Regions from separate parts of the Homo sapiens genome. Here all the other regions are linked to region 1. Evidence: fine-mapped expression QTL. A gene starts in region 1. Each other region holds a variant in brackets. All regions are shown on one strand. Distances are from middle to middle.

Region 1 (4,347 bases):
TGGCTTTCAAGAATCCCTTCCCCGTCGTGAAGAGACAGCTGTCCGTAGAAGGCGGTGGAGGGTGACAGGCTGCCACAGCAGTGGTGCGTGGTCACCCGGGCAGCCTGGAAGTCTGGTGTCCCTGCACTTCCTCCAGTTTAGCCACAGGGACGTGCTTCTAGGAAGGGATTCTTAGAGGCCAAGTTAATTCCCGTGCAGATATTCAATTCAGGCTTTCTTAGATACTCATTTTTCCCATCCAGATATGCCTCAAGTTTTGTGGATTTACCACTCCTACTCAGGAACCCTTTTCCCTTTCCTCATTCATTCTGCAAAGCGCATGGTTAGCAATGCACTCTCTTCCCTGGACATATAGGGAATGGGGGTTTCCCCCATCCCCATCCTCAGCCCGTCCCCCTCCTCTAAAACTCAGATCAGGGTTTGTCTGCCCTGCTGCTAAGATGCAGCCCAACTTTGAACTCTGAGCTGTCTGCTTTAACATTTGGGCCTCACTTGAATGGATTCCCTTCCCTGAGGATTCCAAGCCCTCCCCAGCCATCAGTCTTCCCATCTTTCATAAAATGGAGCCAGCAGCCCCGCTTCAGGGACTCCCCCCCTCCCCCCTGTTCCCTCCACTCCAGGATTCTTCCCACTTCCATTTCCCTCCAGCCCCCACCCTGCACAAAGTTGCCTGTTCTGCCGAAGTGCCTATTTTTGGCTTGGGGCCCAGTTTTATAGCCCCAGCTATAGGTCTTGGCAGTCATAACTTTCGCTCTCCAGAGAGCCAAGCCGGGTCCAACAGCCTTCCCCACCCCAGAGAGGGGGTGCGGGGGCTCCCTCTGCAGCCTCAACCCGAAACCTGCCCCTCGCCTCACTTGGTCTGATGCCTGGGAACCCAAGCCTGCTTCTTGCCCTACTTCTTAGAGTCCACCAGCTGCAATGGAGTTGTTAGGTGTTGAAAATCCATGCCGGGTTTTTACTCTTTTAGAGAACATAAAATTCAATTTTTCCCCTCGCACCCCCTCCCCAAAAGCAAGACTTTGAGGCGTTTACAGGTACAAACCTCCCCCTAACGCTTCCCTCCGCCCCTGCTGCCCGGTCAGCTCCAAGCCCCTGTCCCGGTGGCCCAGGATCTTCTGCTGAGGGTCTCATCCCGTCCCGCGCTCCAGTCCTGGCTTTGCGTGCCTCCCTCGCCTTTTATTGTAGGTCTGGTCTCCCAGGGTAGCGGCCTCATCGCATTCCCTTCGCAGCGCCCCTGGATCCAGAAACCGCTTTTACCTGTCCGCTCCGGTGCAGCCAGCGCGCCAAATCCCTTCGTACCCGAGTCCAGTCCTCCTTTTGCCCGTCCCCCTTGCACGTCGCTGCCAGGAAGATGAGGGCAGCCCAAGTCGCCTCAGCCACTAAGCATCCCCCTTCCAGAACCCCCCACCATGCGAACCCAGGTCCCGGGAGTTCCGGGCCGGGTCTTGCTTGTTTCCACTGCGTTAGGCCTGACGCATTACTCCGTCTCCCGAGAAAGAATCCGGCCCGAAATTTGCGTGCCCCGGGTGCATTTGGCCATGTCGCATCTACCCCCCAACCCCCCGCTCCAACACCGTTCCTCCCATCTTTATCTAATCCAACTCGGGTTTTGCACAACCCTTCCAGATCTCCCCATTTGCGCCCTCCTTCCCCGGGCTCGGCGCCTTTCCTTATACTTCACTGGAAAATCCGCTCCGGGTCTTCCTTACGCCTGTCTCCCTTCCCCCACTCCCCGCTCCAACGCGGGGCTCCAGCACGTCGCTTTCCCTCTCCCTGCTTTTCCAGGGAGGAGGCGAGAGGAGGCGAAAGGAAGGAAAGTCCAGCCCGGGTTTTCGGGCCGGCTCCTGGGGCGCTCAAGCGGGTTGCGGCGGCCAGTCCCGGGCGGCGACTCCGGGCCGGGTTTTGCGCGCGCCCACCGCCCCCCTCCCGGAGCGGGTGCGCCGGGGAGCGGGGCGAGCAGGCGGCTTGTCATTGCTGGTGCCCGGCGCCGGCTCGGTCCGCGCGTCCTGCGGTGCCCACGGGCCCGGCCCGGCGCCCCCCCTCCGGCCGCACCGGGGGCGCGACGCCGCGGCACCCGCCTCCAGCCGCGCCGCCCCCCTCCGCCAGCTCCGCGCCGCCCGCCCCCAACCCGAGCTCCCCGCGGCCACTGCGGGGAGCCCGAGCCGTCGGCGCGGGAGCTGTCGGCGCTGCGGTGCCCCCGCCCCGCCGTCTGCCGAGGAGGCCCCGGCTGATGGGGCCGCGCGGGCCCCGGAGCGGCGCCGCCGGGCGGCGGGGGCCTGCAGGGGCGCCCCGGCTGCCCCGTTAACCCCTCGTCCACCGCCGGCGTCGGAGGGGGCTGGGAAGTCGCCTGGGCGCACACGTGCCGCCTCCGTCGGGGCCGCGGAGCTGCGGGGGAGATGCGGGCCGCTGCCGGCGCCGCCTCGGGGCGCTCCGCCTCGCCCCAGCCCCCGGCGCTCTGACGCCGCCCCCGCCCCACCGCCTCCCTCCCCGGGAGGGGCGCAGACCCGATCGCCCCCAGTCCCGAGCCTCCGCCGCCGCGAGGGGGCCGCCTTTGGATCCGTGTAATCCGCCTCTTTTTTTTCTTTTCTTTTCTTTTTTTTTTTTTTTCCTAATTTTTGGTCGGCGGCGGTGCTGGGCCAGGGGAAGGAAGGGACACGGAGGCCGCCCTCGTCCCGCCACCTCCTACCCGCTTCCCCCCAGCCCCGGCTCCGGGAGATGTGCCGGGCGGGGGGCCCGGGTTCGCCGAGCCGCAGGAGAGACACGCTGGGCCGACCCCAGAGAGGCGCTGGACAGGTGAGTGTCTGCGGGCCCAGGGCGAGGGGCGAAGCCGCACCTGGGCCAGGTGTGCGGGGCGCGTGGAAGAGGGGAGGCGGGAAGGATGGGAGGCCGGGGCCTGTCCTGGCCGCGAGGGGGGAGGGGACACGGGAGCCGCGCGGGGCACCGCACCTGAGCGGGAGGGGCGTCGGGGGCAGCCCGCACCTCACCCCCACTGGCGAGGGGCCTGGGAGGGGCGGCCCCCACGGAGCGCCCGGGGCGCGGGGGTGCGGACGGGCTACCGCAGGGTGCCTGGCGGGGGGAGGGGACCGCGAGTGTGCCCGCGCGTGGCTGCGTGTGCCCGCGCGCGCGCCAGCCTTTGTGGGGAAGCGGCGCGGCGGTGCCTGCGTGTCCCCGGTGCGTGTGCGCGCGGGTGCTTGGCGCCCTGTTTGTGTAGGTGTCTGGGTGTGAGCGGAGGGGGTGCGTGTGCGCGCCGCGCGCCGGCCCCGCGCCCCAGAGGAGCCGTGTCGGGGGCTGGCACCACAGGATGCTGGGCGAGGGGGTTGTTTTTCTCTGGGAGGCAGTGGCGCGGGGGATGGGGAGGGGTCCGTCTGGGTGTCCAGCCGGCCGCAGTCCGGGGGGCGCCGCTGTCAGGAGGAGGGGGTGCAGCCGGGCAGCACCTTCTCTCCGTGGTGCCGGGTTAAAGCACGGGAGGCCGGCAGGTTTGATCCACTCGGATTATTCGTGCTTTGAGGACAGCTCCCCACCCCCACCCCAGGTGCGCATTGGATTGAGCTGCGAGGGTTTGGTTGTCATCCTCCCATCTGACGGTCCTGGGACCCGAGTCCAGGCCTGAAGTGGTGGGGTGGGGGGATGCTGTGTTTGCTCCAGCCGTGTCCAGAAAATGCCCTCCCAGGTATCTCTCCAGTGCACCCCTGGCCCCCATCTGAAGACAGCCGCTGGCTACACACACCCCTGTCTCTACACTTCCAGTCCGGGTCCTCACACTGCCCCATCCCTGGCCAACACCTCACTGTACCTGCCTGGACCCTTTCTTCCTGTTCCAACCCCCATCCACCCCCAGCCATGCCAGCTGCGTGGGTGTTTCTGTATCCCAGTTCCAGGCAGGGCCCCCCCTTCCGCCTGGCTTCCACCGGACTCAGAGCTGGGGTCTGTCTTCCCACATCCCACTTCCCAACATGTGTGCCTGGGGGCAGGAGGGGGAGGGGTTCAAAATGGCTGCCAAGATGGCTGGCTCGCGCGCTCTCTCTCTCTCTGTCTGTCTCTCTCTCTCTCTCTCTCTCTCTCTCACTCTCTCTGTCTTTCTCTATCTCTCTCTGTCTTTCTCTCTTCCCCTCTCTGCTTGCCCGGCTCCCTTATCCTGGTAGGGAGTCACTGCTTAGAGGAGGTCGGATCCAGTGGGGCACACCTGAGGGTGAATGTCTATTCCGGGCCGTTGACCTCCATGCTGTTTGGGGACAGACCATTGGTTTCTGCTTCTCTCTCCAACACCCCAAGGGCTGGCATGAGTCTAACCTGACCCCAGACCCCACTCCTTCACCCTGGCTCACAGCCTGAAAGCTCCGTGCCCTC
Region 2 (4,347 bases), 20 kb before region 1:
CTTGTGAGCCACTGAGGACCCCCGCTCCCCATCCTCCATCCTCCTGCCCACCCGCTCTGTCTCCTGGGCCTGTAGGCTGCCGATCTGAGCCCCATCCCCCATCCTGCTATTTTAATTTTTACATTTTCTCATCACCCCCTGGAATTACCGTCTCTCCTTATTTCCTTCCTCCTTCACAGTCTTTTTCCTTGAAGGCAGGGCCATGTCTGTCCTGTTCGTCGTTGCATCCTTAGTGCATTGAACACATAGCAGTGGCTCCCATATCTGCAGACAACCACTAACCCTCTGCCACGGTCCCACCATCACGGCTGCCATCCTATCCTAACCTTACTAAGGACACCTTCCCCCTCTCCCCGGCGGCTGTGAGCGCGCTGGAAGACGGGGGCTGTTTAGTTTGTTTCCTTCATGGATGGATCTACTGTCCCTCCACCCCCAAAGAAAGCCTGATTCACAGCTTTCTGGGTGTTGGGATTGGGGGATGGGGACAGACAGGCATGACTGAGTCATTCAGCTGTTTAAAAGCTATCACTGACTTCTTCAAAATTGAAAAATGTTATCGTGGCTCCAAAGGTCCTTTCCAACCTAGACCCAAAACACCTGTTCAGTTTAAACCACGCCCCCTCCACCGCGCCAGCCCCGACAAACATGCTGGCACCCGCCTAGGCACCACCTAGTCAAACCCCCTGGCCCATGTGGTCCCCAACTCACCCATGATGCTTTGCATCGCCTTCACTAAATGCCCCGCCCCTCCCTCTGTGTCCGCCCCAGAGCTGAATCCAGCCCACAGATGTAATTGGCTTGGTCCATGCAGGCTTTAAAAACATTTTGTAATGACTTGCTAGCTTTTATTTATTTATTTATTTATTTATTTATTTATTTATTTATTTATTTATTTTTGAGATGGAGTCCCACTCTGTCACCCAGGCTGGAGTGCAGTGGCGCGATCTTGGCTCACTGCAAGCTCTGCCTTGCGGGTTCACGCCATTCTCCTGCCTCAGCCTCCCGAGTAGCTGGGACTACAGGCGCCCCCCACCACGCCCGGCTAATTTTTTGTATTTTTAGTAGAGACGGGGTTTCACCGTGTTAGCCAGGATGGTCTCGATCTTCTGACCTTGTGATCTGCCCACCTCGGCCTCCCAAAGTGCTGGGATTACAGGCGTGAGCCACCGCGCCCGGCCCATGACTTGCTAGCTTTTAAATACAGGCTGCTTTTTCATTGTTGTTGTTGTTGTTTTTGTTTTTGAGATGGCGTCTCGCTGTGTCGCCCAGGCTGTAGTGCAGTGGTGTGATCTCTGCTCACTGCAACCTCTGCCTCCTAGGTTCAAGCGATTCTCCTGCCTCAGCCTCCCAAGTAGCTGGGATTACAGGCAAAGGCCACCAGGCCCAGCTAGTTTTTTTCTATTTTTAGTAGAGGCAGGGTTTCACCATGTTGGTCAGGCGGCCTTGAGCTCTTGAACTCAAGTGATTCGCCCCCCTCAGCCTCCCAAAGTGCTGGGATTACAGGCCTGAGCCACCAGTGCCAGACCTCAGGTGATTTTTGCATAAAAATCTGGATGCCTGACTTCCTCTAAAGATGAAATCTTGTCTGGGCGTGGTGGCTCATGCCTGTAATCCCAGCACTTTGGGAGGCCTAGATGGGCAGATCACCTGAGGTCAGGAGTTCGAGACCAGCCTGGCCAACATGGCAAAACCTTGTCTCTACTAAAAATGCAAAAATTAGCCAGGTGTGGTGGCACGTGCTTGTAATCCCAGCTACTCGGGAAGCTGAGGCAGGAGAATTGCTTGAACCTGGGAGACGGAGGTTGCAGTGAACCGAGATTGTGCCACTGCACTCCAACCTGGGTGACACAGCAAGACTTGTCTCAAAAAAAAAAAAAAA[AC/C]ACAACTGAATTAAATGAGTTCATGCTATATAAGGAACGGGCTTAGCAAGTGCTGATAAATGTTACTCATTCTTATCATTATTTGCCATAGTCCCACCCCCCCTTACTGTCTCCCTGACACTGAAGCTGTTCCGTTGCTGGTGCAGTCAGTCTTTTTATCTTGGCTGCTTGGCGTATTTATATTACCTACTGGCTGTCCCTGTAGGTTTGTGGCATGCTCCAGCTCAGTTCTGGGTCATCACCTCTGCTATAAAGAGGTTCCCCAGTCTGGGCATGGTGGCTCAAGCCTGTAATCTCAGCACTTTGGGAGGCCAAGACAGGAGGATGGCTTGAAGCCAGGAGCTCAAGACTAGCCTGGGCAACACAGTGACACCCCATCTCTACAAAAAATAAATAAATAATTAGCCATGCATGATAGCATGTGCCTGTAGTCCCAGCTACTCGGGAGGCTGAGGCAGGAGGATCGCTTGAACCCAGGAGGTCGACTGCGCCACTGCATTCTAGCCTGGGTGACGAAGAGAGGTCCTGTCTAAAAAAAAAAAAAAGAAGAAAAGAAAAAAAAGCCTCTCTGGTCCTCCACCTCACTGTCCATCCGTTTCTCAACACTCCCCATTTTCGAGTTTCCCTCCCCCTCCACTGTACCACGGGCCCTTCCTGACGCTTCATCAAGTGCTTGTGGAATTGGATATCAGGGCCTGTGTTCATTTCCTGGGGCTGCTGAAATACATTACCATAAACTAGGTGGCTGGAAACAACAAGAATTTATTATTTCACCATTCCGGAGGCCAGAGGTTGCAATCAGGGTGGTGCAGGGCTGCAATCCCTCCGAAGGCACTAGGTGAGGATTCGTCCTTTTTTCTTCCAGCCTCTGATGGTTCCTTGCTTGTGTCTGTACTGCTGAAAGCCCTGCCTGTCTTCACTTGGCCTTCTTCTCTGTGTCTAACCCCCTTCTCTTCTAAGGTCATTTATCATTGGATTTTGGGCCACCCTAATCCAGGATGATCTCATTGCAAAATCCTTAACTTAATTACATCTGCAAAAACGCTTTGTCCAAATAAGGTCACTGCTATGGTTTGAATGTCTGTGTCCCTTCCAAATCCATATGTTGGAAGAGTTGGGGTTCTTGGGAAGTGATTAGGCCAGGAGGGCCCCATTCTCATGGGTGAGATTATTGCCCTTATAATTGAGTGTGACAGTTTGGAGATTTCTCAAACAATTTAAAATTCTTCTATTTTATTTGACCCAGCAATCCCATTACTGGGTATATACTCAAAGGAATATAAATTGTTCTACTATAAAAACACATGCACATGTATGTTCATTGCAGCACTATTCACAATAGCAAAGACTTGGAATCAGCCTAGGTGCCCGTCAATGGAGGATTGGATAAAGAAAATGTGGTACATATGCACCATGGAATACTATGCAGCCATTAAAAAAGAATGAGGCCGGGCATGGTGGCTCATGGCTGTAATCCCAGCATTTTCGGAGGCCAAGGTGGGTGGATCACTTGAGGCCAGGAGTTCGAGACCAGCCTGGTTAACATGGCAAAACCCCGTCTCTACAAAAAAATACAAAAATTAGCAGGGTATGGTGGCAGGTGCCTGTAGTCCCAGCTACTTGAGGGGCTGAGGCAGGAGAATTGCTTGAACCTGGGAGGCGGAGGTTGCAGTGAGCCGAGGTCACGACACTGCACTTCAGCCTGGGTGACAGAATGAGATTGTCTCAAAAAAAAAAAAAAAAAAAAAAAGAATGAGATTATATCCTTTGCAGCAATATGGATGGAGCTGGAGGCCATTCTCCTAAGTCAACTAATGCAGGAACAGAAAACCAAATACCACACGTTTTCACTTATAAGTGGTAGTTAAACACTGAGTACACATGGACACAAAGGTGAGAACAACAGGCCAGGCACAGCGGCTCACGCCTGTAATCCCAGCACTTTGGGAGGCTGAGGCAGGTGGATCACTTGAGGTCAGGAGTTCGAGACCAGCCTGGCCAACATGGTGAAACCCCATTTCCACTAAAAATACAAAAACTAGCCAGGCGTGCTGGCACACACCTATAATCTCAGCTACTAGGGAGGGTGAGGCAAGAGAATCTCTTGAACCCGGAAGGCAGAGGTTGCAGTCAGCCGAAATTATGCCAGTGCACTCTACCCTGGGCAACGGAGCAAGACTCCATCTCAAAAAAAAAAAAAAAAAAGATGGGAACAACAGACACTGGTGTCTATTTGAGGGTGGAAGGTAAAAGGAGGGTCAGGATTGAAAAACTACCTGTTGGGTGTTATGGTGATTACCTGGGTGACAAGATTATCTGTATACCAAACTCCTGCAAAACACAATTTACCCAAATAAGAAACTTGGACATGTGCCCCCTTGAACTTAAAACAAACATTGGATAAATAAATAAATAAATAAATAGGCCAGGCACAGTGGCACACGCCTGTAATCCCAGCAATTTGGGA
Region 3 (4,000 bases), 530 kb before region 1:
GGAGTGCAGTGACACCATCTGGGCTCACTGCAAACTCTGCCTCCAGGGTTCAAGTGATTCTCGTGCCTCAGCCTCCCGAGTAGCTAGGATTACAGGCACCCGCCACCACGCCTGGCTAATTTTTGTATTTTTAGTAGAGACAGGGTTTCACCATGTTGGCCAGGCTAGTCTTGAACTCCTGGCCTCAAGCCATCTGCCCGCCTTGGCCTCCCAAAGTGCTGGGATTACAGACGTGAGCCACTGCGCCCAGTCCATCCCTGTCTTTGACTCTCCTACAGCCTTCATACTTTATAAAGACCTTGATGATTACATTGGGTTCACCAAGACAATCCAGGGCAATTTTCCCATCTCAAGATCCTTTTCATAACCGTATCTACAAAGTCTCTTTCTCCATGTCAGGTAGCATTTACAGGTTCTGGGGATTAGGGATGTGAACCTCTTTGGGGGGTCATTATTCTGTCTCTCATACCCATATAGTTTGGGTTTACCTATTGTAGAATCATCAAAACCTGCCTCATATTGTAGATATTTGCATAAATATTTATCACCCTTTCACCCCACACAGCCACTAGAAATGATATATACACATTGAAGAAAGGAAACATGTACTTTTGTGTAGGGAATTAGAGTTAGGTCATCAGATAGCCAACAAAGGCTTCTGAAATTTAAGGTGTGTGATCAGATATTTCTACCAGCTACTGACAAAGGACCAAGAAAATCCATTGCATTACTTAATGTCATTTTATCTTCTACTGTTTCCTAAAACTTGTTATCTCTGGTGTTTGAAAATGTATGTGCCTTGGCCGGACACGCTGGCTCACACCTGTAATCCCAACACTTTGGGAGGCCAAGGCGGGCAGAGCACTTGAGGTCAGGAGTTCGAGACCAGCCTGGCCAACATGGCAAGACCCCACCTCTACTAAAAACACAAAAACTAGCCAGGCATGGTGGTGGATGCTTGTAATTCCAGCTACTTGGGAGGCTGAGGCACAAGAATCACTCGAACCCAGGAGGCAGAGGTTGCAGTAAAGCCAAGATCGAGCCACTGCACTCCAGCCTGGGTGACAGAGTGAGACTATGTCTCAAAAAAAAAAAAAAAAAGAAAAGAAAAGAAAAGAAAATGTGTGTCTTGCTCTTATTCTGCAGTCTCTGCCATGGCTTTCTGCAGTCTTGTTTCATAAAAACAAAATGTCTTGTGATCACTACTGAATAATCTCCTGAAGCACAATATTTATTAATCTCTTGAGCACATATTAATTATGCATTAAATACTAACTATATAAGCAAGTGAAGCTGACCATCTCGAACCATAGAAATTACACTGAGTTTCCTATGAACCTAGGAATAAATAACTCATATTGGAGATGGAAAAGATATGGAAAAAAGGAATTCAGGCTGGGCGCAGTGGCTCACGCTTGTAATCCCAGCACTTTGGGAGGCCGAGGCAGGCAGATCACTTTAGCTCAGGACTTCAAGACCAGCCTGGGTAACATGGCAAAATTCCGTTTCTACAAAAAGTATAAAAATTAGCCAGGCATGGTGGTGCATGCCTGTAGTCCCAGCTACCGGGAGGCTAAGATTGGAGTATTGCTTGAGCCCAGGAGGTCAAGTATCCAGTGAGCTATGATCCCATCACTGCACTCCAGCCTGGGCAACAAAGCAAGACCCCTGTCTCAGGGGAAAAAAAAGGAATTCAGTGCTTTTTCCTTTAAATCTTATGTGGTTAACAATAGATAACACTTCTAACATTTCATTAATTTCCCACCTGGCTTCTTTTATGACTCCACATTTAAAGCAACATTACACAAACCCTGGAGCTCCGAGGTCAAGACATACATTTGGAAACAGATAGATCTTTTTAAATGTTTTTTAATTGATCCATAATAGACGTACATAGTTTCTAGGTACATGTGATCATTTGCTACACTCATATAAGCAAATCAGGGTAACTAAGATATCTATCACCTTAAATACTTATCTTTTCTTTGTACTAATAACATTCAAATTATTCTCTTCTAGCTAGTTTGAAATGTATGGTAGATTAATGTTAACTATAATCACCCTACTTCAGATACAACTTTTTTTTTTTTTTTTGAGAGGGAGTTTTACTCTGTCGCCCAGACTGGAGT[A/G]CAGTGGCACCATCTTGGCTCACTGTGACCCCCACCTCCCAGATTCAAGCGATTCTCCTGCCTCAGCCTCCCGAGTAGCTGGGACTACAGGCGCCTGCCACCAAGCCCAGCTAATTGATTATTATTATTACTACTGTATTCTAGTAGAGACAGGGTTTCACCATGTTGGCCAGGCTGGTCTCAAACTCCTGACCTCAAGTGATCTGCCCGCCTCGGCCTCCCAAAGTGCTGGGATTACAGGTGTGAGTCACCACACCTGGCCCAGATAGATACTTTACTGCAACACATTTACTTCCTCTTAACTTTGGTAACTTGGGGTTTAGGAGGCATACAAAGATGGGGCTTCTGAGAAAGAACAGGATGGAGCAAAATGAAAGCTGATATGGCCTTTTGATGTTGCCCTGACAAATACATATGGTAAGAAAACCTTATGATTAAAGACTTCTTGGCCAGGCATGGTGGCTCACACCTAGAATTCCAGCATTTTTGGGAGGTTGAGATGGGAGGATCACTTGAGCCCAGAAGTTCAACAGCAGCTTGGGCTATACAGTGAGACCCCATCTCTACAAAAAATTAAAATTAAAAAATGAGACAGGAGTGGTGGCACATGCCTGTAGTTGCAGCTACTCGGGAGGCTGAGGCAGGAGGATCACTTGAACCTGGGAGTTGGAGGTTGCAGTGAGCAGAGATGGTGCCACTGCACTCCAGACTGGGTGACAGAGCAAGGCCCTGTCTCTAAAAAGAAAAAAAAAAAAAAGACTTCTTAAATTTCTTTTTTTTAATAAATTTTATTGTGTATACACACAATTGAGGTTTAACCCATGAAGTTATGGGATACATATAGATAATAAAATGGTTATCTATATGTGAAGCAAATTAATATATCTATCATCTCACATAGTTACTTATTTTTGTGGCACAAGCAGCTATAATCTACTTATTTAACTAATTTCTTATTTCTTTTTCAAAATGGAAATTATAGGTTTTCTTTCTATAGTCATATATATTTCTAAATATATATATATTTCTAAATATATAGATATTAAATATATATATTTCTAAATATATAGATATTAAATATCTATATATTTCTAAATATATAGATATTAAATATCTATATATTTCTAAATATCTATATATTTCTAAATATCTATACTTCTAAATATCTATATTTCTAAATATCTATATATTTCTAAATATCTATATTTCTAAATATCTATATATTTCTAAATATCTATATATTTCTAAATATCTATATATTTCTAAATATATATATTTAGAAATATCTATGTATTTCTAAATATCTATATATTTCTAAATATCTATATACTTCTAAATATATCTATGTTTCTAAATATATTTAGAAATATATATATATTTCAGGCCAGCTCAGTGGCTCACACCTGTAATCCCAGCACTTTGGGAGGCTGAGGCAGGCAGATCACCTGAGGTCAGGAGTTCAAGGCCAGCCTGGCCTACGTGGTGAAACCCTGTCTCTACTAAAAATACAAAATTAGCCGGGTGTGGTGGCACATGCCTCTAATCCTGGCTACTCTGGAGGCTGAGACAGGAGAATTGCTTGAACCTGGGAGGCGGGGGTTACAGTGAGTCGAGGCTGCGCCATTGCACTCCAGCCCAGGCAACAAGAGTGAAACTCTGTCTCAACAACAAAATACATACATATATATATATTTCAGGTTAACTAGAAAAATCTTCTGAATAAGATCTTCCCTCTTTGCCCGTGGAAAATCTGAACAATCTTTGAGCCATCTAGAGGGGAAAGAAAAGACTTTGTTCTGTGTGTTTCAAGAAATTCACCATGTCAGCAATATGAAGGATGTTATGGAAGGCGTGCTAGGCATTCAATTCCT

Which allele goes with the higher level. Positions count from the first base shown, and alleles are read on the strand shown. Sizes are in standard deviations (SD) of each study's normalised expression. Not every link is listed here.
As copies of A replace G in region 3, the expression in B cells of the gene that starts at base 2,609 in region 1 goes up (moderate effect, 0.59 SD a copy in Fairfax 2012).

The links. PIP is the estimated chance that this variant, and not a neighbour inherited with it, causes the effect.
Region 2: its variant is the best candidate, but not a certain one, in a credible set for the expression of ADGRL1 in whole blood (INTERVAL, PIP 0.70).
Region 3: its variant is the best candidate, but not a certain one, in a credible set for the expression of ADGRL1 in B cells (Fairfax 2012, PIP 0.57).

What each region holds. Positions count from the first base shown.
Region 1 is chr19:14,204,431-14,208,777 of GRCh38, reverse strand. ADGRL1 (adhesion G protein-coupled receptor L1) reads left to right here and starts at 2,609. Exons shown (of 23, transcript NM_014921.5): 1 at 2,609-2,793. RefSeq lists silencers at 1,816-1,915, 1,936-1,995.
Region 2 is chr19:14,224,306-14,228,652 of GRCh38, reverse strand. No RefSeq gene overlaps it. Among named protein-coding and RNA genes, the nearest start is that of ADGRL1, 20 kb to the right of the region's middle. The variant AC/C (reference allele first, on the strand shown) is at 1,880.
Region 3 is chr19:14,736,071-14,740,070 of GRCh38, reverse strand. It overlaps ADGRE2 (adhesion G protein-coupled receptor E2), which reads left to right. Exons shown (of 21, transcript NM_013447.4): 21 at 3,827-4,000. The coding sequence ends at 3,835. Among named protein-coding and RNA genes, the nearest start is that of ADGRE2, 40 kb to the left of the region's middle. The variant A/G (reference allele first, on the strand shown) is at 2,130.